Homo sapiens: one gene and its partner. The protein of the gene in region 1 interacts with the protein of each later gene in a pairwise test. Each region holds a gene or a part of one and is shown in the gene's direction. Other genes may lie near its edges. The genes, in order: AATF and MNS1.

Region 1 (15,781 bases):
AAGTGTCACCCCTTGCCCATCCTCTGCTGTGCCTAATCGCCTGCCACTTTGCAGCCCTTGGAGGGCAGGGAGAGGGATTGTGGACTGGGCGCCCCTCCGCCTTCTCTGGAGAAGGCCATTCTGTTAGGGAACTGCTCACCCTTATTCTCCTCTCCCTGTTCCTCTCATCTGCTCTCATCTCTACATCAGTCAGAGGTTGAAACTCCTCGCCACAGTCCACTCTCCATCTCCATCCCTACCCCATCAATAAGCCCTTCCCCCACCATCTCAAGACACTGGAATGCAGGTAGGGAGAGGCCCCCAGAGGGAGTATTTGAGAATTTGCTCCCCTGTCCCTTGCCTCAACTACTCTCAGTTGCATCTTAATTCCTAGAATTACTTCCTCTTCCCTCCACTCCTGGAGTCCTCTTTCTACCTTCAGTATAAGGTCAGGCAAACATTTTGGGGGGCCCTGGGATGTGTGTGACAGTAGAACGGTCTTGATTCCTTGCTAAAATGGCTTCCCAAGTCAGTAGGGACCAGGACAGAGAAGGGAGAGTAAGTAAACAGGTCTATGGCATTTTCTGCTGAGTGTTTGCCCAGCACAGCCCCCAAATTGACCAGCAGTGTCCTGTTTGCATGACAGCTTAGAGGTGGTCTCTGCAGTGACTCACCTCCCTTTCTCTTTTCTTCCTTCTCTTTACCTCAAAGGCCAGGTTTCTAAGCATTGTAAGTACCCAACATAGCAAGGGGATAGGATTGCAGGAGGTAGTTTCTTAAATGTGGGGTGGGAGAAACATTTTTGTCCTTTGAAGCCCCATGGCACCTTGTCAAGGAGCAAGGAACACACTTTTGCTTGGGAGGCCCGGACACAGGCACAAGACTGCAATTATAGAGGATAAACGAAAAACTGTTCTCTTAGGCTAAGCTCTCTTATGGATGGTAAAAAGCCGTTTTCTTCTCCTGAGTGCCCTGCCTAGCCTGGCATTCTTTTCCTTCCATGTCTGAGGGGGTTTACCCTCAGACAGGTTCTCCTTCCCCTCTGCAGCCCTGGTTGTCTTCATTCTTCAAGGGCCACTTTACAGGGACATGGAACAGGCTCCACTAAAGTGGTGTCCTCTTATTGCTCTTGGCCCTGAGGACATATGAAGATTGTGAAAGTCAGAGATCCTCTCTTCCCTTGGTTTTCATGGGAGACAGTAGAGAGCTGAGGGTTCCCCAGTTGTTCAGCTGTGGGATCCAACTGGCCCGGGCTGTACCCAAGGGGCACTGCCACAGTGCACCACTAACATCTCTTTTCTGGATCCTTTTGAGGCAGATTCTGTTTAGAGGGGTCTAGGTCTCTACAGGCAACCTCCAACAGATACCATAAGAATAGACCACTTTGTAGTCACACTTATCATCCCTTATTGCAGTTTCTGTTTACATGTTTGTCTACCCTCCTAGGCTGATTACCGTGGGGGGGAGAATCCAACTTACTTATCTTGTATCTTATCTAGCAGTGCCTGCCACATAGTGGGCAGTCAGGGAATGCTTGATGAAGGAAAGAGGATGTAAAGCGATTGTGTCTTTCCGTGTGCGGGGTGCAATTACATTTATACTATTAAGTCTTTATATTTTGAGTCTGTCCCTCTAACGGTAGACCTGTATTTTTCTGCATTTGTGCACCTGCTTAAGCTGCCTGAGCATGCCCTCATCTCTGAACAGCAAAGATAATCAATACCGAGGGGTATGCAGTGGAGTAATCCACACCCCACCCCCTTTCCCTTGCTCAGGCAAGGGTACTTAGAGACGCTACTGAAACTATCTTTAGCCACAGCGATTCCTAAGTATTCCCATTAAGAAAGACGCCAGCAGTCCGCCACACACTTACACGTGCATATCCCTGACATAGGATTCCCAAATCCTGGCCGCTGAAGGGCGGGAGGCGTGTGCCCGGCCTCAGACTACTATAAATTGCGAAATGACAAACCTGCTTTGGGTCCCAGTCTCTGCGTGCCCGAGTGCGCACCCGCGATTCGAGCAGCTTAAGCCCTACTCCCTCCTCCTTCCCAAATCAGCCACCGTGGGCCACGGCTACGCTATGCTTTATTCCTAAGCGAATCTCGCACAAATCTCGAGGCATATTTTGTACAAGGGGACACTGGCCGCGCGCATCGCAATCGCATCTCAGCGACAGAAGCGGTCACGTGCCTTGGCGCGCTTCCGCACCGCCCCTTCCCGCGCACTCGCACGCGCACGCGCACACGCGCCCATACGGCTCCAATCCCTTCAACCTTCTGCGCGCTTCCGCCTTCATGCTAGCAACGCCCGCAGTGACGCGCAGGCCCCGCCCCCTCCCGCGCGCCTCCCGGAAGTGGCCGGTCCAGAGCTGTGGGGTGGCCTCCGCGCGGTCTCTGGCGGAGTCGGGGAATCGGATCAAGGCGAGAGGATCCGGCAGGGAAGGAGCTTCGGGGCCGGGGGTTGGGCCGCACATTTACGTGCGCGAAGCGGAGTGGACCGGGAGCTGGTGACGATGGCGGGGCCGCAGCCCCTGGCGCTGCAACTGGAACAGTTGTTGAACCCGCGACCAAGCGAGGCGGACCCTGAAGCGGACCCCGAGGAAGGTGAGGCCGGACTGGGGCAGGCCACGTGCGGAGCGGTGGGCCAGGCCCTGTGGGGCAAGGGGGCGGCGTGGGAGGGGCGTGCGCGAGGCCGCCGGGCCTGCGCTCCTTCGCTTGGCGCAGAGGAACGTCGCCTCCCGCGAGGGTGGTCCCGGCCTCGGGAGGAGGGCTTCGGCTTCTTTTCACACGCACTCGAAACTTGGTGCTCGGCTGGATGGGCGGAACAGATCGAGGGCTCAGGCCGAGAGGAGCTGGTCTTCAGGTTTACTTGCTCCAGGCCTGTTGGAGGGAGCCAGAGAGTCTGCTAGCAAGTTGGAAGTTAGCTTTGAGGATGCCCTTTCTGGTATTGCGTTAGAAAGGAGGAGAAGAAAGTCGCATGTTTTTAATTCAGGTTGCCCTTCAAAACTAAGTTGGAGACTGATGGAAGGATTTTCTGGTGCTGTTTAAGTCTCTTGAAGTCTCAAGACACTTGTTCAGTGGCTGACGACTGAGACTCCTGTTCTGTAAGCTGATGTTCAGAGTCTAGCTGGGAGTAATCCCGCTTTAGACTTGAGTCGGAAGTGTGAGAAAGGGATAATAAGGAGGGATAAATGCGAGTGCTGAACCGTATCTTAGGAAGATCAGTTGAAGAAACTCGGGACTGTTTAGCCAGAATAAGCAAAGAAAACTCCCCAAAGAATGGGACAGAGTGAGGGGAGAACGTGATGACTGATTTAAGATATTGGAGCGACTGTCACACATTGAAGAGGAATTCAACTAGTTTGATAGGATCCAAGTCATAGAAATAGATCCCACTAGTAGATGCCAGGAGTCAACTTTCTGTTTAGAAACAGCAGTAAGACAGTGTTCTACTTTGGGAGAGAGTGAATTTCCTATTCCTGGAAGTTGGTGGGGATTTCGTAAAGGACGTTCAACTATGAGATAAATGGGTCGACCAGGGTTCCCGTTAAAGTTTCTGCTAACCTGGAGATTCTGTTTACTTTTCCCTCTCCCCCGACAGCCACTGCTGCCAGGGTGATTGACAGGTTTGATGAAGGGGAAGATGGGGAAGGTGATTTCCTAGTAGTGGGTAGCATTAGAAAACTGGCATCAGCCTCCCTCTTGGACACGGACAAAAGGTATTGCGGCAAAACCACCTCTAGAAAAGCATGGAATGAAGACCATTGGGAGCAGACTCTGCCAGGATCGTCTGGTGAGTAGACATTTTTGAATGGAACTCTTCTCTTCCCTAATTTTTTCAGGGTTAAAATCCTCCGGTCATCCCCCATGATCTTTGCAAGAGTAGTCTGCGGATCTTTTTTTTGAGACAGAGTTTGGCTCTTGTTGCCCAGGCTGGAGTGTGATGGCGCCATCTCGGCTCACCGCAACCTCCACCTCTGGAGTTCAAGCGAGGCTCCTGCCTCAGCCTCCCGAGTAGCTGGGATTACAGGCATGCACCACCACGCCCGGCTAATTTTGTATTTTTAGTAGAGACGGGGTTTGTCCATGTTGGTCAGGCACCCCTATCTGTTATCTTAGGAGAGACCATTGATTTGGTATTAGAAAGGGTCTTAGAGGTTACTTCATTTCACTTCATAAGGAATCTAAAGCCCAGAGTGATTAAGTTGCTATACTCCTTATGTTCGGACTAATGGCTCACCCTACAGTGGAGTGACAGAGAAGGCAGTGCATTTTGGCTACTGGAGAGGGTTATGAGCTGAAAAACCACTGTGTCTGATGAACATGTTATCCTTGAATTGTGACCCCTGACCTTTGGTTTTCCAGGACTTGCATTGAAGCACTGTGTGATATTAGTTATTTGTGAAACTCATTTTTTGCCATTCTAAAAAATCACATAATCCTTCTCTTCCCTGCAAAAGAGTTAGGAGTCTGTGCGCTTATAGTTTTAAAGAATTGTAAATTTCTCAGAGTGGAAGAAGGGGCTAGATATGGTGATTATTGGGAGAATGTCATTTGTTTTCCTTTAGAAAGGTCAGGGGTGTCATGTTGAGAATCCACAGATAATATAAAAGGAACTATCATTTAGGTTATGATATCTATGATTTAGTCCTTGATGTAGTTCTGGGAGCTCCTGATAAGCTCATTTCATATTCTTTGCCTAGAGACTGATAAAGGGACCAATCATGAGACAAATATGATAATATTTATTGAGTTCTTACCATGCGTCAGGCACTGAGTTTAGCTCTATAATTTAAGTTCTAAGAGCCTGGGACACAGTAAGTCCTCAAAAAAAAAATTATAAAATTACCTGGAATTAGACAGATTTTTATAAAAAATTATCACCATTATCACTACATGTGTCACCTAATTTAATCCTCCCAATTGCGCAGGAAGTTATTACTACTTAGCCCCATTTTACAGATAAGGAAATCGAGGGGCAAATTGGTTACATAAGTTTGCTCAAGGTCATATAGTTAGTAAGTGGAAGAAACATGATTCAAATGTAGGCTGTCTGACTCCAAGATGTACACTCTAGTAAACTCTGTATGAATGTTTCTTAATCTGAGAAATGGCGTACATTCAAAGAATTTAAATAATAATTTCTGTTTACTGTTTTGGCACTTAGTTTTTGTATTTATATTTTTGGCAGCTTTGTGTCTTAAGTTTATATATACCTTTTTAAAGAAGCGCTGAAGACCTGTCACGCTTTCCTAAAATCTTTATTTTATTGAAGAAAGTTTTTGGAAACTGGTCCCTCTATCTTAGAATCATACTTGAAACACATGGGGCTTTTATGTTCTACCATGGAACAGATTGGATAAACTGTAAAAACCTCTACATATCAGATGATACTCTAAGCATAAGTCAAACAAAGAGCCTTAACTAGCACTCTGTCTACTATAGGATCAAGTTCAGAGTCCTCATGAAAGACGAGACCTTTCCTGATTAGTCTCATCTCCCATCACTTCCTTGTGCATCCTGCACTCCAGTGCGTTTTCCCTTCATTATCTATGAGCTGTTGCCTTATGCTTCATAAGTAAAATTATAATGTCTCCTTCTCCACATGATACCATCCCCCACCTTTCCAGGAGAGTTAGGTGGTTCCATCTCCATACACTGTGTACTAATGACCTTGTAATATAATTATTGGCATGCATATCTACCACTCCCACCAGACCATGAACTCCTCCCAGCAAGTATTAAATTCTATTTGCCTTTCCTTAGCCCCTGGCTCATAATGAGTGCTTAATAAGTATTTAGTAAATAGGGCAGACGGATGTGATAGATTGTACATTTTTTCAGATCAGGTTTGGGAAAACTGGTAATTCTCTAACACCAGTTGAAATCTTACTGTTCTTCAAGGGCCAGAGCAAATGCTAGCTCTTCCTTAGAGATTAGCTTAAATTCACTTGCCCCACAGTTAAAATTTCTCACTCTTCTGGGTTATTGAAATTTTGTCAAAGCACTTCTGATGCTTCCTTGAGTTGTAATGTTGTGAGTCTGTCTTTCCCACTAGCTCCTTTTGTTAGGGTAGGACCCGTGTTCTATTCATCTTTGCTTCTCCCTTAGCATTTTGGAGATTGTAGATGTGTAATAAATATATTGTTGAATTGAGTGCAGTAAGAGATTTTCCCCCTGATGCCACAGTGCTTAAGTTGAAATGAAGTCTATGGCTTGGTATTTTCTCCAGGTAATACCCATTTTTCTCTTTCTTCCCTCTCTTCTTTGTAGATGAGGAAATATCTGATGAGGAAGGGTCTGGAGATGAAGATTCAGAGGGACTGGGTCTGGAGGAATATGATGAGGACGACCTGGGTGCTGCTGAGGAACAGGAGTGTGGTGATCACAGGGAGAGCAAGAAGAGCAGAAGCCACTCTGCAAAAACACCGGGCTTCAGTGTCCAGAGTATCAGTGACTTTGAGAAATTTACCAAGGGAATGGATGACCTTGGGAGCAGTGAGGAGGAGGAAGACGAAGAGAGTGGCATGGAAGAAGGGGATGACGCGGAAGACTCCCAAGGCGAGAGTGAGGAAGACAGGGCTGGAGATAGAAACAGTGAGGATGATGGTGTGGTGATGACCTTCTCTAGTGTCAAAGTTTCTGAGGAAGTGGAGAAAGGAAGAGCCGTGAAGAACCAGATAGGTTTGTACATGGTTTTGCTGATTGCCTGTTTTTCAAAGTATCTGCATTTGGTCTACTTTTCATTTGTTTGTTTTTGGCTATTCTCTATCTCCTGTGTCCTTTCAATTAGTTTGTGACATGCCCCACTTACCCAGAAGCCTAAAGCCCTATTCCTGTATGCTTAGCCAGCCATTTCTGCACTGATCTGCTTAGCTGGTTCTGCTCTAGTACTTCCTGCAACTGGGGAAGATTGAAGAGAAGAGTGTTTTCTCCTCTCCTTGGGTTTTAGCATTCCCACTCTGCTGTAGCAAATACTTGCTTCATGGATACTGAATTTATTTTCTCTAATAGAGAATATTTGTTTCCATGGCATTAAACTGCTAAAGCTGTGGTGCTTAGAGACTGGTGTGGTTTCCTGTTCTTCCCCACCCCTGCCACCTCACCCCCAGAATATTTTATTATTGAGGAATGGGATTCTCTTTTCTTCTTTTCAGCACTGTGGGACCAGCTCTTGGAAGGAAGGATCAAACTACAAAAAGCTCTGTTGACCACCAACCAGCTTCCTCAACCAGATGTTTTCCCATTGTTCAAGGACAAAGGTGGCCCAGAATTTTCCAGTGCCCTGAAAAATAGTAAGAATACTTATGTCCTGTTGGAATACTTAGAACCACTTTGTCAAATGAAGACAGCTTTGATTGAAGTGGACTGGGAGCTTGAGCCATGTTTATTGTGCTTTCTTCTCATCTGCCCTTGCTCTCCCCTCCCCATCCCCCTTGGCTTTCCAAGTTGCTTTTTTTTTTTTTTTTTTTTGAGACAGAGTCTCGCTCTGTTGCTGAGTCTCAAGTACAGTGGCGCGATCACAGGTTACTGCAGCCTCGTCCTCCTGGGCTCAAGCAATCCTCCCACCTCAGTGATCCTCCCACCTTAGCCTTCCGAGTAGCAGGGACCACAAGCGTGCACCACCCTGCCTGTAGAGAGGGATATTTTGTAGAGACAGGGTCTCACTGTGTTGTCCAGGCTGGTCTCAAACTCCTGGCCTCAAGCAATCCTCCCACCTTTGCTTCCCAAAGTGCTAGGATTACAGATGTGACCTACTGAGCCTGGCCCTGAGTTAATTCTTTAAAGCTCAGGGGACACTGGTTGAAAACCCACTGATGTAGAAAGGGAGAAAAAGAATGTCTAATTCAGCTCATTAAACTTGGTTGTATCATGTGTTTAAAAGATGCTTCCTATGTTTGAGAGGTTTTTAGAACAATGTGCTAAGATGATCTTATTTATATCTTTCTTTGAGTGACATAGAGTGAGGAAAGATGATATGCCGAGGGAGAAACACATTTTAGAGGAGAATTACTGAGCTATAAAGAATTCTAGAAGAGGAAAAGGAATTGAGAGACTATTTGGTTCCCAATGTCTTCATTTTACACATGAGAGAATTAAGACCCAGAATGACTTGCCCAAAGTTGCAGAGCTTATTTGTGTATGGCGGAGATGAGGCTCCAACTTTTCTACCTTATGATGTAGGAATCTTCCCTCTGCACCACACTGCCTCCTGTGTGCTGCTTGCCTGTGTGCCCAGTGGCACTGAAGGACTGGGGCAGAGGGAGATTTAGGGTGAGTGTGCTGTGTTTGGGATCTGTATATATCTATATCTAGATATTCAGAGTCCTCATGAAAGAGATATCTATATCCATAGATATAGATATATATGTATAGATTATGTATCTATCTCTCTATATATATATTTGGGAGGCCTTGGCCTCCCAAAGTGTTGGGATTACAGGCATGAGCCTCTGCGCTCAGCTGAGATCAATATGTCTTACTTGCATGCTGAGACTTCATGTTTTCATTTGCTCTTTAAAACTTATTTTTTTAGTATCATGGAGTTAGAGTTGGAAGGGACCTGAGGAGGATATCTAATTTGGCATCTGCCTGTAGGTAGAACCGCCTTAAGACATTCAAGATCAATGTGTAGGATTTCCCAGGTAGGGAGTTCAGTGAACGTTTCTTGTAGGTGAATACCTGATGTAATTAGGAATGGCTTCCTAGAGTCCAGTTTTTGGGTTTTGTGTCCCGCCACACTTAAAGTCTGCTTCTTCCCCTGTGGGAAGTCTGGGCAGTCCTTCCCAGGAGCCTTACGTGGCCTGTGTGGGTGAGGTGGGCCATTTATATCCCCGCCCCTGTCTTTGCCTCCTTTCTCTCTCAAATAGATGACAGATTGATGGTTTTCAAGTTTTTTGAGATTTTTGGAGCACTTCTCTGCTATTTTTAGTGTCCTAGTACCCTAATTCCTGGTATGCCTTTGGAATGAGACCTAGACTGCTCTAGATTAAATGTTTTAAATGTTTCACGATAAGGCCTGTTTTCATTTTGTTACTCATTATTCTTTTTGCTTGAGCCTTTTTCATTTTAAAAAATTCATATTTAAATATAGATATTTTAGGGGTTAGTCAGTGTCCAGTATAATGGACACATATTCTTGGATACGATTTAATTTCTTTTTGTTATGAGACAGGGTCTTGCTCTGTTGCCCAGGCTGGAGTGCAGTAGCGTGATCATAGCTCGTTGCAGCTTCGAACTCTTGGGTTCAAGTGATCTTCCCGCCTCAGCCTCCTGAGTAGCTGGTACTACAGGCATGAGCCACCATGCCCGACTAATTTTTTCTTTTTTTGTGGAAATAGGGTCTCACTATGTTGACCAGGCTGGTCTCAAAACTCCTGGTTTCAAATGATCCTTCCGTGTCAGCCTCCCCAAAATGCTGGGATTACAGGTGTGAGCCACCATACTCAACTCATTTAGTGTCTTTAATCACTGCAGTGTTATTTAACTTTTATTTTGTTCTGATCTTTTTACTCTTTTTTGTACTTAACCAATTGCCTTTACCTCATTGATGAACCTCAATTAATCTGACAGCATCTATTAATCTGACAGGGTGGGTTGTGGTGGAGGAGGGAGAAGAAAGGAAGTTTGGTATCACATATTCTAAGGTGGGAGGGTAGGGAGTTTTCAAGTAATGAGCTGTGCATTTGAAGAGTAGCTAATTTTTCTTGTGGCAATATGACATAATATGTTGTATACTCCCCTGTCTTGATAAACAGACTTTAAGAAAAAAATTCTTGGCCGGGTGCAGTGGCTCACGCCTGTAATGCCAGCACTTTGGGAGGCCGAGGTGGGCTGATCACCTGAGGTCAGAAGTTTGAGCCCAGCCTGGCCAATGTGGTGAAACCCCGTCTCTACTGAAAATACAAAAATTAGCCAAGTGTGGTGGCAGGTGCCTGTAATCTCAGCTACTCGGGAGGCTGAGGCAGGAGAATTGCTTGAACCTGTGAGGCGGAGGCTGCAGCGAGCCAAGATTGTGCCATTGCACTCCAGCCTGGGCAACAAGAGTGAAACTCCGTCTCAAAAAAAAAAAAAAAGTTCTTGGCCGGGCACGGTGGCTCCCGCTTATAATCCCAGCACTTTGGGAGGCTGAGGCAGGCGGATCACTTTAGGTCAAGAGTTTGAGACCAGCCTAGCCAACGTGGTGAAATCCCATCTTTAATAAAAATAAAAATATTAGCCAGGTATGGTGGTACACACTTGTAGTCCCAGCTACTTGGGAGGTTGAGGCAGGAGAATCACTTGAACCCGGGAGCAAAGGTTGTAGTGAGCTGAGATCGTGCTAGTGCACTCTAGCCTGAGCGACAAGAGCGAAACTGTCCCCCCCGAAAAAAAAAAGAGAGAGAGAGAGAAAATTCTTGAGCACATTACTCTGGATGACCAATTTATTACTGTGCTGTATAGCTGGTGTGGAACATAGGCTGAATTTGTACCAACCCCAGAACAACCACTGGAACTTACTGTCTTTAATTAAATCTCTTTTCAATTTGCTTGGTCTTACAGAGTAGTTAAAGTCAGACCGGCTTGGTTTAGATTTCATCTCAGCAATGGATTAGCCATGTGACCTTGGGCAAGTTACTTAACTTCACAGTAAAATGGGGATAATATGGTTGTGAGGATTAAAGGACATAATCAATAGAAAGCATTAGCACAGTGTCTGGCACACATCTCACCATGAATGTTAGGTACTAATATTATCTTTTTCTGCTCAAAGAGGCATTTGGCAGTGTTCGACCATGTGAGCAATCACTCAATAGTTATCAGTGTAACTGAGCCTCACTAGTCTTCAGTGTTTTTTACTTTTTTATTAGTATTTGGATTCTTTATATAATTTAAATTAACTAATTGTTCTGGAAAGTGTTATAGTTTACTAATACTTACAATGCAGTGTTGGCCTCTTACGACGCTATGGAAAGATGGCTACAGATTTCCTTATTGCTATACCCAGCTACTACCTCCTTGAAGCGTTTAACTTTTCCTTGAAATACTTTTCTTTGGCTTGGTGACACTACCTGTGCTGTTTGGGTTCTCCTACCTTTCTGATCTCTTCTCTGGTTCCTTTTGTATCCTCTCAATGTAAATTTCATTCCGTTTAGAATCCTGTCCTCAGGTTGCGTTTTCTCAATATAGTCTCTCCTTGGCACTGTCACTTACTCTGATAACCCTAACTATTGCCTCTAAAATAACAGACTTCCAGCTGTATTCTAGCTCCAGTAAACTCCTGAGTACCATGCCTTTGTAGCTTCAGCACCCTAAACTCTACTTTTCAGAAACTAAATGAATATCTCCTTCCTCTCCACACACCACCCCAAACACGTAAACTTAGTCCCCAGTCACCTTGGTGTTACATGTTGGTAATTTAAACTTGAACTGTGGAAGTGATTTCAAAGACATCGTCTGATATTTTAGTGGCTGCATAAGTGGTAAGTCATGGAGTAATCTTAACAAAATTAAGGGATTTTCTGTGCACAAAACCATTTCTCTAAAAGGGTTTGCTTTTTCTCTCTTTCTTTTTTTTCTTTTTTTTTTGAGATGGAGTCTCTCTCTGTCACCCAGGCTGGAGTGCAGTGGTGCGATCTCAACTCACTGCAACTTCTGCCTCCCAGGTTCAAGCGATTCTCCTGTCTCTGCCTCCTGGGTAGCTGGGACTACAGGCGCATGCCACCACACCCGGCTAATTTTTGTAATTTTTTTTAGTAGAGATGGGGTTTCACCATGTTGGCCAGGCTGGTCCTAAACTCCTGATCTTGTGATCCACCCACCTTGGCCTCTCAAAGTGCTGGGCTTACAGGTATGAGCCACTGTGCCTGGCCTTCTCTCTTTTAGAATTTCTACTGTATTAGGAAATACATCTTTTATGTTGGTGGCAATGATATGTAAGGAAGAAGGGAAGTTACTTAAGGAAATCTCACCATGAGTTATTTAAAACTTTTCATTATGGGATATATCAAACTTATATAAAAGTAGAGAAATAGCACAGTGAACCCCCACATGCCTTCACCAGCTTAAGCAATAATCAATTCATGGTCAATCTTATTTCATCTGTAGTTGTACCAACTCTGCTCACCTTCTGGATTATTTTGAAGCAAATAATACACATTCTCTCATCAGTAAAATTTTCAGCATGTATGTTCAAAAGATAAGGATTTTAAAAAATTATACCATAATCTCATGTAAAAACATTAACAGTAATTTCTTAATAAACATAACTGGCCTGGTGTGGTGGCTCATGCCTGTAATCCTAGCACTTTGGGAGGCCAAGACAGGTGGATCACCTGAGGTCAGGAGTTCGAGGCCAACCTGACCAACATTATGAAACCCCGTCTCTACTGAAAATACAAAAAATTAGCTGGGTGTGGTGGCGGGCACCTGTAATTCCAGCTATTCAGGAGGCCAAACAGGAAAATCTCTTAAACTCGGGAGGTGGAGGTCGCAGTGAGGCGAGATTGCGCCACTGCACTCCAGCCTGGGCAACGAGCAAAACTCCGTCTCAAAAAAAACAAACATACAGACTGGGTGTGGTGGCTCATGCCTGTAATCCCAGCACTTTGGGAGGCCAAGGTGGGCAGATCACCTGAGGTCCGGAGTTCAAGACCAGCCTGGCCAACATAATGAAACACCGTCTCTACAAAAGTACAAAAATTAGCCAGGCATGATGGTGGGTTCCTGTAATCCCATCTACTCAGGAGGCTGAGGTGGGAGAATTGCTTGAACCCAGGAGGCAGAGGTTACAGTGAGCAGAGATCATGCCATTGCACTCCAGCCTGGGTGACAGAGCGAGAGTCTGTCTCAAGAAAACAAACAAACCAACAAACAAAAAACATGACTGATTTGGATGGGTGGGAAAATTGTAAGTAAATGTCTTTTTTGTTTTTTTTCTTTTCTTTAAGGCAAAAGGTCCTAGAGAGTATTTCTGTAACGGGTACTCTACTGTCTTTTTCAGAGTTTGCTCTATAGCTTTAAATGAAGTGATTAAAGGAAAGCTAAACTTCAGTCATAATAAGTTGACCTTTTAGTGCAATGCATGTTATTAATGTATTTAATGAGATGCATTACAAACTGCAGTGAGCACCATGTTTCATTACAGGTCTAAAATGCAATATCATTAAAGACCTTTAATAGAAACAATGGTTGTCATTTTGATATTTCCCGTAAGCAAAACATCCAAGAACACAGCATAATGTAATATAAATACAGAGAAAGTATTAAGATTTTTTACTTTCCTAAGAGTATGAAAACAGATTTCACTATTAATAAATTATATTTTGTTTGCACCCTGTTATCTTCCCATTTCATACTTACACTCTCATATCTTTGTGGTCCTTGCCCAAAAGCCCCAATTATTTTGACTTGACTAGACTAAAATTTTTTTCCCCCCCCGAGATGGAGTCTTGCTCTGTCGCCGAGGCTGGAGTGCAGTGGTGCGACCTTGGCTCACTGCAACCTCTGCCTCCCGGGTTTAAGTGATTCTCCTGCCTCAGCCTCCGGAGTAGCAGGGAGTACAGGCATGCAGCACCACGCCCAGCTAATTTTTGTATTTGTAGTAGAGACGAGGTTTCACCATATTGGCCAGGCCGGTCTTGAACTCCTGACCTCAAGATCCACCCGCCTCGGCCTCCCAAAGTGCTGGGATTACAGGCATGAGCCACTGCACCCGGCTAGACTAAAATTTTTAATGGTAATTTGTCCTCAGCAATAATAGATACCTTAAATAATAATGTTTTAAATTTTGCGTAAGCTGTGGGAAATCATGGAGTCTTGATAATGTTTTGTTTTTAAAGTTTTACTTATTTTTAAGTAGGCAGTACATTCACATAGTTCAAAATTCAAAAATACTAAAGACTATATATACAGTGATAATCCTGTACCCCTGCCGCCCAGTACCCTGTCCCACAGGCAACCAATTTTATCACTGAAATCCCCCCCTTTTAAATTACTTAGTTGCCTTAGGTGACAAATCCATAAATGATTATTTCGGAGTTCTCTCAGTTAACACTTTATGGGTTCTTGGCAAAGTTCTCACAATGTTCTGTAGAACCTTGAAATATTTTTAATTACTTGGGATGGGTTTAAGTATTGCTTGGGATAAAGGCACTTGCAACCCCCTCTAATTGTAACATTGTGTAGGCTTAAGGACCCTTATTGCTGCAGACTTCATCTAGCCAAGATGATGTGAGTAAGATTGATCTTTTTGCTTCAGCTGATGGCTATCATTTTTTAAAATAGCTTCAGTGTTCTAATTATAAAAGTATGTCATGCTTATTTCAAAGATCGGAAAATACATAGAAGCATAAAGAAGAAAATAAGGATTAGCTGTAATCCTACTGCCCAGAGATAACCATAGTTGTCATTTTGATGAATATCCTTCCAGACCTTTTCGCGTGCACACACACACACACCACACACTTTTTAAAACAGAAAATGGAATCATATAAGTATGTACTATTTTCAAGCTTATTTTTCCTACTTAATATTTCATGTCAGTATATTTAGATGTACATCAGCATTTTTAGGAGTTGAAGTATTCCTTTTTATAGATTTACTGCAATTTAGTTAACCAATCTGTATTGATGGGTGCTTAGGTTTATTCTAGCTATTCACTTGTATAAAACATGCTTTAATAAACATCCTTGTACATACATATTTGTGCAGTTTGTCTAAAAATAGCACTGTCCAGTAGAAATATAATGCAAGCCACATGTAATTTAAAATTTTTTAATAACCACATTTTAAAAAAGAAACAGTTAAAATTAATTTTAGACATATTGAACCCAATATATCAAAGATATTATAATTTCAATATGTGATCAATATAAAAATCTTAATGAGATATTTTACATTCCTTTTTTCATGTTAAGTCTTTGAAATCCAGAGTATATTCTATAATCACAGTTCATCTCAATTGGGACTAGACACATTTTGAGTGCTTAGTAGCCACGTGTAGCTAGTGGATACTGTATCATATTGCCCAGATCTATATTCCCTGGAAATGTAGTTGCTGGGACAAAGGACTTGTACATTGATTTTTTTTTTTTTTGGAGACAGAGTTTTCACTCTTGTCGCCCAGGCTGGAGTGCAATGGCAGGATCTCGGCTCACTGCAACCTCTGCCCCGCCGGGTTTAAGCAATTCTCCTGCCTCAGCCTCCTGAGTAGCTGGGATTACAGGCATCCACCACCGTGCCTGGCTAATTTTTGTGTTTTTGGTAGAGACTGGGTTTCACTGTGTTGGCCAGGCTGGTTTTGAACTCCTGACCTCAGGTAATCTGCCTGTCTCAGCCTCCCAAAGTGCTGGGATTACAGGCGTGAGCCACGGTGCTGGGCCTTGTACATTGTTTTTTTAAAAAGGCTTTTGGAATATATTGCCTAACTAGCCCCTGGAAGAATTGTAACAATTTAAATTCTCATCTGTAACAGTTGTTTTCCTACACTCCTGCCTCCACTAGGTATTATTGATCTTCTTTTTGCTAAACTGTAGGTGGGAAATGAAGGCAATCATTTCTTGATAAGTTTCTGTTTGGTATTTACATAATACCTGTTAGCACTGAAATAACATATGCAGTGTTTTATCTATTTATTAGAGAGTGAGTTCTGTGTAGGAAGACTTTTTGTCCCTTTTGAGCTACTACTTTGTCCAACTTAGTTAATTAGGCATTTATATAATGTAGAGAGTAAAGCTGGATCACAGAGCAAGAACTTTTCCAAAGTCACCAAGTGGTGGAATGAGGAGGGGAGTGTCAGATTCTTATGCACTGATTCTACC
Region 2 (15,781 bases), on another chromosome or scaffold:
ACTCCTGTTAATTGATTTTGGAACACATGGTTTTGTAATCCAAGAAAGTACTTAAAAGATAATTTAACTTTGCTGCTGTTTTTAACTGGAGTTGGGAAACTCACTGTTTATTTTTAGAAATCCTATTTTAAATTATGGCACTAAACAATTAGTAGTTATAATTAATTGCCCAATTAACTAAATGTATTTATTACACAGTTAACACATACTGTTATGAAAGCAAAAGCAAGTACCTCATATCTCATTTATATTTAAGTTCAGCAAAAACCATTTCAAAGAAAAGACAGAGACAGTTTTTCCTTCTTAATACTATTACCATTACCTAGCTTATACCAGTATAATTATGTTCTGGACTGATAATCAAGCTGTTAATTCATAAAATAGATGAGATAGATTAAAAGAGCACAAAATAACATTTTCTGAGAAACAAAAACAGAAGATTGATCACCAATAATCCTGCATTAAAGGGAATACTAGCAGTTCTTCATTAGGTATTAATAGAAGAAGAAAAATGATCCCAAGCTTAATTTCAGAACTGCAAGAGGTACATGTATAGTAAATTTAGTTGATATTTGAATGTATAAAATATTTATTATGTCTTTTGGGAATTAAAATATGTAAAGAGTTAAAAATATGACAAAATGAGATAGGAAGTAAATGAAGTTAAAGTCAAGAATCTTGCATTGTCAAATAATAATGAATAAATTTATTCACCTGGAAACAAAGAAACATGCTGTAATATCTGTAATAAAAATTTGGAAAAGAAAATATAACTGACTAATAGAGAATAAAATACGATAATAGGAATTGATTATTCCAAAAAACTCATGTAAAAAAGAGTTAACATAGCAGGCTTGAGGCTATCTTAGAAAGTCCTCCTTGCAAGTTTGGTCTTTGGCTGGTTTCTGGAAACTAGGCTTTTGAGAAGGTTCTTACCACCTTAACTGCTGAGGATGATTCACTGTGGCTAAAATGTGAAAACAATATGGATTAGGCCGGGTGCGGTGGCTCATGCCTGTAATCCCAGCACTTTGGGAGGCCGAGGTGAGTGGATCGCAGGGTCAGGAGATCGAGACCATCCTGGCTAACACGGTGAAACCGCGTCTCTACTAAAAATACAAAAAATTAGCCGGGCCTGGTGGCACACGCCTGTAGTCCCAGCTACTTGGGAGGCTGAGGCAGGATAATCGCTTGAACCTGGGAGGCGGAGCTTGCAGTGAGCCAAGATCGCGCCACTGCACTCCAGCCTGGGCGACAGAGAGAGACTCTGTCTCAAAAAAAAAAAAAAGAAAAAAAGAAAACAAAACAATATGGATTATACTGAATACCCATTTTCTTTCTGGGAGTCTGGAATATTGGTACGTTCTAAGTAGAGGGTGCCTAAGTTACCACCCCCAATAAGAACCCAGAGCACTGAGTTCTGATGAGCTCTAATGTTGTCTGCCAGGCATTTCACACGTCACAACTCATTGCTCGGGGAATTAAGCGTGTCCTGTGTGTTTCCACAGGTAGAGGCCTTTTGCACCTAGTTTTCTCTGAATTTCACCCATGTGCCTTTTTCCTTTGCCAATTTTGCTGTGTTTCGTTTCTTTATAGTAAGTCATAGCCGTGAGTATAACTATATGCTGAGTCCTGTATCCTCCTAGTGAATCATCTAACCTGATGGTGGTCTTGGGAACCCCCAACACAGAAGCAAACAGGAGAGAAGAGAGAACATAGGACAGGGAAGACAAGTAGAAAGAAGATATAAGCTTGTAAATGGAAACCCAATTATATTAGTAGTTATAGTAAACATATTTGAACCATTTGCCAAAATTGATGAAATGTTGTATCAGAATAAAAATATCAACAGATTTTCAGAGGAATCAATTTATACATAGTATTTTCTCTGTCCATAGTGGAATTAAACTAGACGTAAGTAATAAAAAAAAATCTAGGCAATCTTTATATGCTTAGGTATTTAAAAATGTGCTTCACATTACCCTTTGGTCAAAAAGTACAGATGCTCCTTGATGTACGATGGGTTCATGTCCCAATAAACTACATTTTCAATTTACGACAGGTTTATTGGGATGCATCCCATCATGAATTGAGGAACCTACTGTGAATGCATATGGTTTTCTCACCATTGTAAAGTCAAACCATCATTAATCAGAGACTGTCTATAATCAAAATTGAAATTAGAAAGTATTTTTAACTGAATAATAATGAAAATACCACATACTAAAAGTTGCAGGATTGGACTGATATTAGCAAAATAGCAGAGTAGGCAGCTCCCAGCTCCTGTCTCTCCTCCCAGCCCATCCCCCGACTACAAACATCAGAAAACAAGCAGAAACTCTCAGAACCAATTTTATAAGAAATTTGGGTAGCATTCAAAGGTTTATTGCAATCAAGCAAATGCTGAAACAAGAAAAAGCCTAAAAATGGTAGTAAAGTTCTGTGGTATCTTCACTTGCCCTTTCCTCATTCCCTCCTAGCTCAGAGGCAGGTAGCCCTTGTTCCCAATGCAGGACCCTGGTCCCTGGTTCAGGAGGAGCAGAGCAGATCTTATTCACAAATTGTTGGGTATATCTGTTCTAACCTACCTTGGGACTACGTGAAAAACTAACACAAGGCACTTATCTGTTTTACCTCACTCAGAACTCATTTAGGCCAGAAGAACAAATTGTATCTCTGATAAGGATTTAATATCTGAAATATATAAAGAACTCTTACAATTCAATAATTTTAAAAACCCAGTTCAAAAATGAACAAAGAACTTAGACGTTTCTCTAAAGAAGATGTTGAGTGAATGATAAGTACATGAAAATATACTCAACATTATTTGTCATTAGGGAAATGCAAATCAAAACCATAAGAAGAAACTGTTTCACATCTAATAGGCAATTTTAATAAAAGTAGTGGAAAATAATAGGTATTGCCAAGAAAGTGGGAAAATTGGAACCCTCAGAAATTGCTGGTAGAAATGTAAAATGATGCAGGTGCTATGGGAAAAAGTTAAACAAAGGATTACCATATGAGCCAGCAATTCCACTCCTAGGCATAAATATACAAAAAATTCAATAGTGAGACTTAAATGGATACTTGTATACAAACTTTTGGTGCAGCATTATTTCCAATAACCAAAATGTTGAAACAACCTGAATGTCCATCAGATGGGTGGATAAATGAAGTGTAGTATATATACATTATACAATATCCTTCAGTTATAAAAAAAAAATGAAGCACTGATACATGCTAAAATATTAGTGAACCTTGAAAACATTATGTTAAGTAAGCGAGACACAAAAGGACAATTCCTTGTATAATTCCACTTTTGTGAACTATCTAGAATAGGCAAATAGACAAAATGCAGATTAGGAATTCCAGGGGTTAGGGAGAGGGAAGAATGGGGAGTTATCGTTTAAGAGGTGCAGCATTTCTCTTTGGGGGGAATGAAAAAGTTTTGGAAATAGTGTTGATGGTTGCAGAACACTGTGAATGTAATTAACACCACTGAGTTGTACATTTAAAAATGGTTAGGATGGCAAATTTTTGTTACATATATTTTCACATGATAAAAAATGTTATAGGACTGAAAAAAAAGAAACCAACTTGTGGCATATAGTTAAGGCTGTTCCTCAAGGGTAGGTCTTAATCTGAAATAACTGTATTAGAAAGGAAAACTCCATCTGGAATTACTAGAAAACAAACTGCAAATTCTCTTCTGGAATGATTACAAAAAGAAGGTAGGAGGAAGGCAATAATAAAGATAAGAGCAGAAATGAGTAAGTTAGAATATAAACATAAAGTAGAACAAATAAAGCCAAGAACTGTGCCATAAAAAGGTGAATAAAATTGACGACCCCTTGGTAGGGATGACAGAGTAAAAGAGAATGCACAAATAACCAGTTTTTGGAATGGATAATGTGATATCACTGTAGAGCATACAAACACTTAATGGACCATAGCAGGATATTGCAAACAATTTTATGAAAATAAATTTGAAAATGTAAATGAAATAGATAAATTCTTAGCACATTTTACCAAACTGATTGGCACAAGAAGAAATAGCTAAATGTTCCTATAACTTTTAAAGATATTGCATCTGTAATTTAACCTTGTCCACAAATAAACCTACAGGGCTAGGTGAATTTTACCAAACATTCAGGACAAAGTAACACCAATCTTATGTAGTTCTGTAAAACAGAAAAAGAGGAAGCCCTTCCCAATTTGTTTTAATCAGATCATTACCTGAATACGATATGAGAAACCTGTAGACTAATCTCTCTCATGAATTTAGCTCCTGTAATCTGAAATATTAGTCAATACGAAATCCAGTGCTGTATAAGAAAGATAAATCATCCTGACCAAATTTAATTTATTCCAGGAATGCAAAGGTGGTTTAACATTTTAAAAATCAGTAAATGTAATTCATCCTATTAACAATTATATGATTAGAAAAAGCCCATTGATATGAATCATCACTCTATGATTTAATAAAAAGAGTGTAGCAAGCTAGGGATAAAAGGGAATTTACAGCAACATTATCCTTAATAGCAAAATGTTAAACACTTCCCCTCTGACACTGAGAAGAAGACAGGGATGCCTGCTCTGACAGCTTTTAGTCATCTTTGTATTATACATACTAATCAGTGCAATAGGGCAAGAAAAAGCAAAGACAGGTGCTAGGATTGGCATTAAAGGAATAAAAATTTAATTATTCACAGATGATATGATTGTATGTGTAGAACATCCAAAAGCATCTACAAATAGCCGGGTGTGGTGGCTCATGCCTCTAATCCCAGCACTTTGCAAGGCCAAGGCAGGTGGATCACCTGAGGTCAGGAGTTTGAAACCAGCCTAGCCAACATGGTGTAACTCCATCTGTACTCAAAATACAAAAAATTAACCGGGCATGGTGGCACACACCTGTAGTCCCAGCTACCTGGGAGGCTGAGACAGGAGAATCGCGTGAACCTGGGTGGCGGAGCTTGCAGTGAGCTGAGATCACACCACTGCACTCCAGCCTGAATGACAGAGCGAGACTCCGTCTCCAAAAAAAAAAAAAAAAAAAGAATCTAAAAATAAGAATTAGCAAATCATTCTACCAAAAAAAGCATATGCATTTATATGTTTATTGCTGTGCTATTCATAATAGCAAAGACATGGAATTAATCCAGGTGCCCACCAGTGGGAAATTGGGTAAAGAAAATGTGGTACATATATACCACGGAATACTCTACAGACATAAAAACAATGAAATTATGTCCTTTGCAGAAACATGGATGGAGCTGGAGGCCGTTATCCTAAGCAAATTAACGCAGTAACAGAAAACCAAATACTGCATATTCTCACTTATAGGTGGGAGCTAAACATTGAGTACACATAGACATATATGGGAACAACAGACACTGTGAACTATGAGAGGGTGGAGGAGGAGTGGGTTAAAAAACAACCCATTTGATTCTGTGCTCACTGCCTGGGTGACAGGAGCTGTACTCCAAACCTCAGTATCACACAATATTCCCATGTAACAAATCTGCACATGTACCCCCAGTATCTAAAAGTTGAAATAAAAACTTAAAACCACTTTAGTAGACAGTTTGGCAGCTTCTTAAAACGCTGAACGTGCATCTACTGTATGACCTGATCATTCCACCTTAGGTATTTATCCAAGAGAAATGAAAGCCTGTGACCACAAATAACTGGTACTCAAATTTCCATAGCAGCTTTATTTGCAATATCCACATACCTGAAACAACTCAAATGTCTATCAGCATGTGAATAGATAAGCAATGCGAGTGGATATCTATAATCTTAAAATAATATCCTGCAATAAAAAGGAGTAAGCAATTACTATATGCAATAAATGGATGTATTTGAAAATATTGAGTGAAAGAAGCCAGAGAAAAATGGTACCTGCACTATGATTCCATTTATATGAATTCTAGAAAATTTATACTGCCTAAGGTGACAGCAAATTAGCTTGCCTCAGGATAAGTGCGAACATAAAGGGGTAGAAGAGAGGTACCACAGGTTTATAAGGAAGTGATTGGGACGTGTTCATGATCTTGATTGTGGTGATGGTTTCACAGGTGCATACATATGTAAAAACTTATCAAACTGTATCCTTTAAACATGTTCAGTTTATTGAATATTGTAGATCAGTAAAACTGAAAACTAAAAAATATATTCAGTGATATTGTTGGGTATAAATTTAGTATATAAACATTAATTGTATTTCTGTAAATTATCAACAATTAGAAAGTGAGATTTGAAAAATAATCTACAGAAGGATATGAAAAATACCTAATGAAAAGTATAAAACTACCAAAATAAAACACAGATATAAACATCGATAGACTTTTAAAAAACCAAATAATTAGAAGGATATACTATGTTTATTGAAGACTCAGTAATGTAAAGATATTAGTACTTTCCAAATTGATTTATGAATTCAGTACTATCACAGCCAGTTTTGTTTATTGTGAAGTCTGACAAGCTGATTCTAAAATGTATATGGAAATGAAAGTATCAAGAATGGCTAAGACAGTCTCTAAGAAGATGACCAAAATTGGAGACTTATCCATGATATGTAGACGTATTATAATTTACAGCAGTTGAGATAGTGTGGTATTGACACAGGATAAGCAAACAGATGAATGTAATAGAACAGAGCAGTACTTTTCAACCAGAAAATGTAAGCCCTAATGCCCTAAAGGCATCCATTAAATATAATGAATTATTTCTCCTATGGATCTAAAATAATACCCGCTGTATTCCCTCTTTGAGTAAATTAAAAATACAGTTACTCAGTTTTCTGTGAGGTTTTCATTCTCTTATGGTCCTAACATTTAAATTTGTTTTTGTTTTTTTAAACAGCATTGAGCTTAGAGAATTGGAGAAGAAATTAAAAGCAGCTTACATGAATAAAGAAAGGGCAGCTCAGATTGCTGAAAAGGATGCCATTAAATATGAACAAATGGTAATCATGTTTCTGGTCATTATGTTTTTAGCTTCATTTAGAAAATAAAAATTAGACTTGTTTCTTAAAAAATTGTCATATTGTATAAAGAATTTACACTGCTAGATTTCTTAAATATTTGTAAATTTTCAGATCCTTAAGATGTAGAAAATCCTGCGTGATTTCATTTTTAATATTAGAGCCTTTCAGAAACACATTGCTGCTTAGAATGACCAGCTATATTCAGTAACTCCCAGCATTCTTTATAGTCTCTAACTGATTATTCACTGACAAAGTAGTACAGTACAAATTGTTACCATGATAAGTGTATTTTAGAATGTTATGAAATTTTTAATTATTTAAATGTTTTTAAGAGTAAACTACTTGATAATTTTATGTAGGAAACTTTCCAGTTTTATAAAAGCCATCTCTTTTTCTCATGTTTCTCTCTGCTTTTATCCCCTTTTCTAACTCCTGATATGGTACCAAGTTGAAGATAAGAGTTACTCTTGGGCAAAGGAATCTCAGGCATACTCACTAGGAGTGCTTTGCTGTATGAATATATAATAGGGTTTACTGAATTAACAGTTAATTAAAAGGGTGCACATCATCCCTTGAGCTCTCATTATCAAACAGAAGGGCCAATTATATATGAATGTTTATATACACATACATATCTATTGTGTATGTCCACATAAACATATGTACACACACACACACTCTTATGGGGTGATATCAAAATACTTAACCAGTGCAGTGCAATATGGGTATCAATTAAGAATAGATACCATAAATGACACATATATGTGTGTGTTGCGTGTGTACAATTGTGTTAGTATAGAAAATGTCTAGCGGGTACACAGCATGCTGTTAACAGGAATACCTTTAGGTGTGGCAGGTGATAAGAAAAGGTGGAGAGACTTCATTTGCTAAGCCATATAGCGCTGTCCTTTGAAAAAGAAAGTAGCACAAACAATGTCCTGTTTGTCCAGTGGTTTGCAGTTTTAATTATCCTGATAGTTGAAGTTATTCAAGGTAGTTGTAGACGTTTTAATCTGACTCCTACGAGAATTGCTGCTATTTTCCAAATAAAAATTGATCCACAAAATGAAAGTCGAATACTACTAGGACTTGACTAGGTGTCATGCAAGTACTAGTTTTGGCTTTTTCTCTGAGCCTTAGTTTTCTTATCTGTAAAATGAGAACATTGTTTTCGGTAAGTGTGTGGTAATCTACACATAAATGTTATTGTCATCTCATTTTTTAATAAAGAATTTAGTATAGCATGTACAAAGAAGATAATCAGAAACATTTTTGGTCAAGTCATATTATCAGAGTATATGTTAAAGGCTTCAGTGACGTCAGGAATGACATTCAGTATTCATATTTTAATCTGTTTACTCTTTATGTTTGATGCTGCTGACCATTCCATCATTCGGGATGTGATCATAAAAGTAAAGCGTAGTTTAAAAAATTGCCTCAGTATATTTCATTTAAAACTTATTTTATTAAATGATTTGAAAAATGCTCAAAAGAAATAAGGGGTTTAACCCATCCAAGAAGAAAGATTGTCTCTTGACAATGGGAATGGTCTTGAGTGAATTAAAAGCTGTAGAAAATAGGCACAGTAGCATCTGTGATTCTTTTCAGATAAAGGGCCTTTAATAAATCAGAAAGGGGAAACGTCAAGGGCCAATGGCAGGAAAGAAAGTTTAGGCTAGGAGAAACTTAAGAGCTGCTCAAAGCCATTTAATAGCAGACCTGTAAGAAAGAGGCAGTACCATCTTTAAATAGCAGCTGATAAACAATGAAGCTAAAAACGATGAAAATTGCCTAGCTCAGTTTATAAATAGAATAATAAGATAATGACTGCTTTAGCAGCTAAATAGTTATTAAGAAACTACTTACAATTGTATTCATTGTTTTTTGAATGTGGAGTTATTAATAATCCTTATCAGGTATTGTCCTGAGAGAGCTACTTGAAGGGATAGGAAAGCTGCTTTAGGGTCTGACTTATTGTTCACACCCTTCAGGTAATAATAACTTACTTTTGCTTTTTAACCTAGACAGATGAAAAAATTTATTTTATGTAAAAGACTTTATAATATTCAATAACATTGGTGTAAAATATACTATCGTACTATGTTCAAATTTGAAAACGGAAAGATCAATTTTGTTTTAATAACAGAAACGTGATGCTGAAATAGCCAAAACCATGATGGAAGAACACAAGAGAATAATAAAGGAAGAGAATGCTGCAGAAGACAAACGAAACAAAGCGAAAGCACAGTACTATCTTGACTTAGAGAAACAACTTGAAGAACAAGAAAAAAAAAAGCAGGAAGCTTATGAGCAGCTGCTAAAAGAGAAACTCATGATTGATGAAATTGTTAGGAAGATCTATGAAGAAGATCAGTTGTAAGTTTATCCTAACTTTCTTACATGTCTAAATGTTTACTTTAGATATATCACAGGTTTGTTGTGAGGAACTGAAGCACCTAGAACAGTGCCTAATACATAGTAAGTGCTCAATAAATACTAGCTATGAAAACATAAATTGGGACCAACTCCTTCTCATCTCCGTTAGCATAATTAATAAATGAATTATCTGATGATTAATAAATGCTGAAGTGATTGAATGACCTAAACCTTTGTTTTTCTTATATATGCCCATATCATATGTCAGAGGACAGGTATTCTGATAAATTTTTTTGGTAGACAGCTTAAGTATAGAGTGCTGCAAAGCTAATGTTAACAGATTGTAGCCTTTATGAAATAAGATGCATAAAACTTCATTAATAGGTTAGAGGAGACTATCACAGTATTCTACCCAAAGAAAAATTCATACCTGACATTATATTTAGCACACAGTAAGCATTCAAAATGTTTGTTGCATGCACGAATGAAAAAACTATAGTGTTTTTCTGTACATTATTATGAACAAAATGAAATTACTTTTTTATATTTTATTGTTTACTATAAATCTGTACTTGTTATTGCTTTTCAGGGAAAAACAACAAAAGTTAGAAAAAATGAATGCAATGCGAAGGTATATAGAAGAGTTTCAGAAAGAGCAGGCTCTCTGGAGAAAAAAGAAACGTGAGGAGATGGAAGAAGAAAACAGAAAAATCATAGAGTTTGCTAACATGCAGCAGCAAAGAGAAGAAGATCGGATGGCAAAAGTTCAAGAAAATGAGGAGAAAAGGCTACAGCTTCAGAATGCGGTATTAAAATAACCACTTCTTTAACACTAGTAAAATTCTGAAATATTAGTTACAGAATTTGGATCCTATAAATATTTATGTTTTTTAAAAAATTTAATAGTTGACACAGAAATTAGAAGAAATGCTGCGGCAACGTGAAGATTTGGAACAAGTGCGACAAGAATTATACCAGGAAGAACAAGCTGAAATATATAAGAGCAAGCTAAAAGTAAGTTTCAGAAATGGAAAGAATGATTAATGTAGAGAAGAATATAATTTTGAGATGAAGCAGAAAAGAGATAGTACATTTAAATCCAACCATACTGGTAATTACATTATATGTAAATGGTATACTACAGTTAAAAGACAGAAATTTTCAAGCTGGCTAAAAAGATAGACTCAGGCATCAATTTATAAACTTACCATAAAAAGCATGATGCAACTATGTTGTCTGTAATCACAATTTAAAAATGAAGATACATACTTTAAAAGCAAAAGGATGGTGAAAGATACGTAACATACAGACACTAGTCAAAAGTAGGTTGGAGTTGCTACGTTAATATGAGACAAAGTCAACTTCAGGACAAGCAATTCATGATAATACAGTAAATTCATCTAGAAGATGTCATAGTCCTAAAGGCGTGTGAACCTAAATAATAAAGCTTCACAATACATGAAGCAAAACTGACAAAAACTGAAAGGAGAAAGAGGCAAATCCACAATCAGAGTTCAAGATTTTTTTTTTTTTCTTTTTCTCTTTCCAACTTTTACTTTAGGTTCAGGAGGTACATGTGCTGGTTTGTTACAGGGGTAAATTTGTGGGTCATGGGGATTTGGTGTAACATTATTTTGTCACCCAAGTAATGAGCATAGTACTCGATAGGTAGTTTATTGATCCTCACCCTCCTCCTATGTCTACCCTCAAGTAGGCCCCAGTGTCTGTTTTCCTTCTTTGTGTCCACGTGTACTCAATATTTAGCTGTTACTTGTATGTGAAGACATGTAGTATTTGGTTTTCTATCCCTGCATTAATTAGCATAGGCTAATGGCCTCCAGCTCCATCCATGTTGACGCAAAGGATATGATTTTGTTCTTTTTTATGGCTGTGTAGTATTCCGTGGTGTACATGTACCACATTTTATTTATCCAGTCCACCATTGATGGATATCTAGGTGGATTCCATATCTTTGCCATTGTGAATAGTGCTGCTATAAATACACACATGCATGTGTCATTATGGTAAAATGATTTATATTCCTTTGGGTATATACCCAGCAATCCCATTGGGTATAAACCCAGCAATCAAATGGTAATTCTGTTTTCATTTTTTGGGGAGTCGCCACAGTGCTTTTCACAGTGGTTGAACTAGTTTACATTCCCACCAACAGTGTATAAGCATTCCTTTTTCTCCACAACCTTGTCAGCATCCATTCTTTTGTGACTTTAATAGCCATTCTGACTGATGTGAGATAGTATCTCATTGTGGTTTTGGTTTGCATTTCTCTAATGATTAGTGATATTGAGCACTTTTTCATGTGCTTGTTGGCTACATATATATCATTTTTTGAGAGGTATCTGTTCATGTACTTAGCCTATTTTTTCTTTTTATTTATTTATTTTATTTTATTATTATTTTTTGAGATGGGAGTCTCGCTCTGTCGCCCAGGTTGGAGTGCAGTGGCGTGATCTCGGCTCACTGCAAGCTATGCCTCCCGGGTTCACGCCATTCTCCTGCCTCAGCCTCCCAAGTAGCTGGGACTACAGGCACCCGCCACCATGCCCGGCTAATTTTTTTCTTTTGTATTTTTAGTAGAGATGGGGTTTCACCGTGTTAGCCAGGATGGTCTCGATCTCCTGACCTCATGATCCACCTGCCTTGGCCTCCCAAAGTGCTGGGATTAGAGGTGTGAGCCACCGTGCCTGGCCAGTCTATTTTTTAAATAGGGTTGTTAATTTGTTTACGTTCCTTAGATATTATGGATATTAGACCTTTGTCAGATGCATAGTTTGCAAATATTTTCTCCCATTCTGTAGGTTGTCTGTTTATTCTGTTGATAACTTCATTTCCTGTGAAGAAACTCTTTAGTTTAACTAGGTCCCACTTGTCAATTTTTGTTTTTGTTACAATTGCTTTTTGAGTCTTCATCATGAAATCTTTGCCAGGTCCTATGTCCAGAATGGTATTTCAATGCACAGTTCTCATTAATCTATAGACTAGGTAGTCAGAACCGCAGGATATCGTATTGAAAGCAATATCAATAAACTTGACCTGACATTTAGAGAATACTCCACCCAACAACAGCAGAACACAAATTCCATTCAAACATGGAACCTTCACCGAGATAGATCATATTCTAGGACATAAAGGAAGTCTCAATAAATTTTCAAGGTTTTAAATAATACCAGATATGTTTTCTGACTACAGTGGAATTAAATTAAAAATCAGTAATGAAAATATACCTGCAGACTCCTTAAATATATTATAATTAAACAATATATTTCTAAATAAGCAATGAGAAAAGGGGAATAAATAATATTGGAAATTAGAAAAATATTTCAAACTAAATGATTCAAAAAACAGCATTCCAAAATATGTGACGTGCAGTTAATGCAGTGCTTAGAGGAAAGTTTATATCTTTAAATGCATATATTAGAAAAAAGAATGGTTAAAAATTAATGAGCCTGTGTCTACCCAAACCCATACACAAATGTTTATGCAGCATTATTCACAATAGTCTAAAAGTAGAAATAACCCAAAAGTAGAAATAACCCAAATGTCTAATGGATAAACAAAATATAGTATATCCATGTAATAAAATGTTATTCAGCTATTAAAAGAATGACAGACTGATCATGCTAAAACATGGATAAACCTTTAATTATAAATTTAAAAGTATGTGCCTCAGGAATGTTATATAAATGATATCAAACAATATGTAACTTTTTCAAGTTGGCTTTTTTTTATTCAGCATAATTTCCTGGAAATTCATCCAAGTTGCTTGTATTGATCATTTGTTCCCTTTTTTTGCTGAGTAACATTCCATTGGCATGTATATACCATTTTATTTGACCATTTGCCCATTAAAGGGCATTTGGAATGCTTCCAATATTTAGCTCTGATGAGTAAATCTGATGTAAACATTCAGGTAAAGGTTTTTGTATAAACATCAATTTTCATTTCTCTGCAATAAATGCTCAAGATTGTATTAGCTGGGTTTTGTGGTAACTGCATGTTAGCTGTGTAACAGACTGCCAAAGTGATTTCCAGAACAGCTGTAGCATTTAACATTCCCATCAGAAATATATGAGTTACGCAGTCTGTCTGCATTCTCACCAGCATTTGGTGTTAACACAGTTTATTTTTTAATTTTTTTCTCCTCTGTCCTCAGAAGCTCAACAATTTTTTATTTTAGCCACTTTTAAATATCCATGTAGTGATACCTTGTAGTTTTATTTTGCATTTTCCTGATGACTAATGATGCTGAACATCTTTTCATGTGCTTATTTGCTGTCCTCTTTGGTGTAAGATCCTCTTTGATGAAATAGTTCTTCATGTCTTTTGCTGATTCTCTAATTGGGTTGTTTGTTCATTTATTGTTGGGTTTTGAGAGTTCTTCATATATTCTAGATACTAGTCCTTTGTCAGGTGGGTGGTTAGCAAATAGTTTCTTCTAGTCTGTAGCTTTATCTTCTCATCCTTTTAACATGATCTTAGAGCACGATTTTTCTTAGAGCAAATGTTCTCCATTTCTATGAAGTTCAGTTTATCAGTTTTTCTTTTTATGGATCATGCTTTCTGTGTCAACTCTAGAAACTCTTCGCCTAGTTATTGAAGAATTTCTCCTTTTTTTTTTCCTAAAGGTTTGTGTGTGTGTGTGTGTTTTGTTTTTTTGGGTTTTTTTTTTTTATGCTTTTCCATTTTACATTTCAATCTGTGATCTGTTTTGAGTTAATTTTTGGTACAAACGATGAGACTTAAATACAGTTTTTGCCATTGGATTTAGTTCAGTTGTTCCACACCATTTGTTGAAATGGCTGTTTCTCCAACATTGAATTGCTTTTGCACCTTTCTTAAAACACAGTTGGCATGTTTGTATGGGTCTATTCCTGTGGTCTCTATTTTGTTCTGTTGGTCTATGTATCCATCCCTCCACCAATACTACACAGTTTTGAATACTGCAGCTATATGGCAAGTCTTAAAATTTTTTTTTTAGCTATTCTAGTTCCTTTGCCTTTCCATATGAATTTTTGAAGAATCTTGTCTCTATAAATATTTTTTGCTGGGATTTTGATAGGTATTGAATTAAATTTGAATATCAGTTTGGGGAGAATTGATAAATTCACTATATTAAGTTCATGAACACAATTTGGCTCTCCCTTTATTTAGATCTTTGAATTTTTTCATCAGGATTCTCTAGTTTCAGCATACAAATCCTGTACGTGTTTTGTTACATCTAAGTGTTTCATTTTTTGAGCAATCGTAAATGGAATGTTAGCTTTTATTTTGGTGTCCGTGTACTCGTTGCTAGTGAATTGATATTTTTGTGTTTATCTTGTATCTCACAACCTTGCTGAATTCACTTGTTAGCTGTAGGATTTTTTTTCCCTACATAGTCAGGCATGTCTTCTGCCCAGAGCTACAGGCTGTTTCTTCCTTTCTGATCTGTATACTTTTTACTTCCTTTCCTTGCCTTACATGCTGGCTAAAATTTCCAGCACCACTGGCTAGTGCTATGTTGAAGAAGAGTGATGAGAGTAGACATCACCTTTCCTGTTCTTGTCTGTTGGCTGCATAAATGTCTTCTTTTGAGAAGTGTCTATTCATATCCTTCGCCCACTTTTTGATGGGGTTGTTTGATTTTTTCTTGTAAATTTGAGTTCTTTTTAGATTCTGGATATTACCCCTTGGTCAGATGGGTAGATTGCAAAAATTTTCTCCCATTCTGTAGGTTGGCTGTTCACTCTGATGGTAGTTTCTTTTGCTGTGCGGAAGCTCTTTAGTTTAATTAGATCCCATTTGTCAATTTTGGCTTTTGTTGCCATTGCTTTTGGTGTTTTAGACATGAAGTCCTTGCCCATGCCTATGTCCTGAATGGTATTGCCTAGGTTTTCTTCTAGGGTTTTTATGGTTTTAGGTCTAACATGTAAGTCTTTAATCCATCCTGAATTAATTTTTGTATAAGGTGTAAGGAAGGGATCCAGTTTCAGCTTTCTACCTATGGCTAGCCAGTTTTTCCAGCACCATTTATTAAACAGGGACTCCTTTCCCTATTGCTTGTTTTTGTCAGGTTTGTAACAAACCTGTCTTTTTTGTAACAAAAAAAAAGAGCAGATGGTTGTAGATGTGTGGTACTATTTCTGAGGGCTCTGTTCTGTTCCATTGGTCTATATCTCTGTTTTGGTAGCAGTACCATGCTGTTTTGGTTACTGTAGCCTTGTAGTATAGTTTGAATTCAGGTAGCATGATGCCTCCAGCTTTGTTCTTTTGGCTTAGGATTGTCTTGGCAATGTGGCCCCTTTTTTGGTTCCATATGAATTTTAAAGTAGTTTTTTCCAATTCTGTGAAGAAAGTCATTGGTAGCTTGATGTGGATGGCATTGAATCTGTAAATTACCTTGGGCAGTATGGC

What was found.
Region 2: the proteins of AATF (region 1) and MNS1 interact in binary tests that used the Homo sapiens proteins (3 or more experiments, as listed by UniProt).

What each region holds. Positions count from the first base shown.
Region 1 is NC_000017.11:36,946,632-36,962,412, forward strand, and holds the start of AATF (protein AATF), read left to right. Parts: upstream 1-2,322; 5' UTR 2,323-2,494; coding exon 2,495-2,585; intron 2,586-3,582; coding exon 3,583-3,774; intron 3,775-6,254; coding exon 6,255-6,665; intron 6,666-7,138; coding exon 7,139-7,276; intron 7,277-15,781. UniProt on the Homo sapiens protein: Part of the small subunit (SSU) processome, first precursor of the small eukaryotic ribosomal subunit.
Region 2 is NC_000015.10:56,438,030-56,453,810, reverse strand, and holds part of MNS1 (meiosis-specific nuclear structural protein 1), read left to right. Parts: intron 1-6,867; coding exon 6,868-6,970; intron 6,971-7,927; exon of another isoform or gene 7,928-8,140; intron 8,141-9,137; coding exon 9,138-9,367; intron 9,368-9,956; coding exon 9,957-10,173; intron 10,174-10,273; coding exon 10,274-10,381; intron 10,382-15,781. UniProt on the Homo sapiens protein: Microtubule inner protein (MIP) part of the dynein-decorated doublet microtubules (DMTs) in cilia axoneme, which is required for motile cilia beating.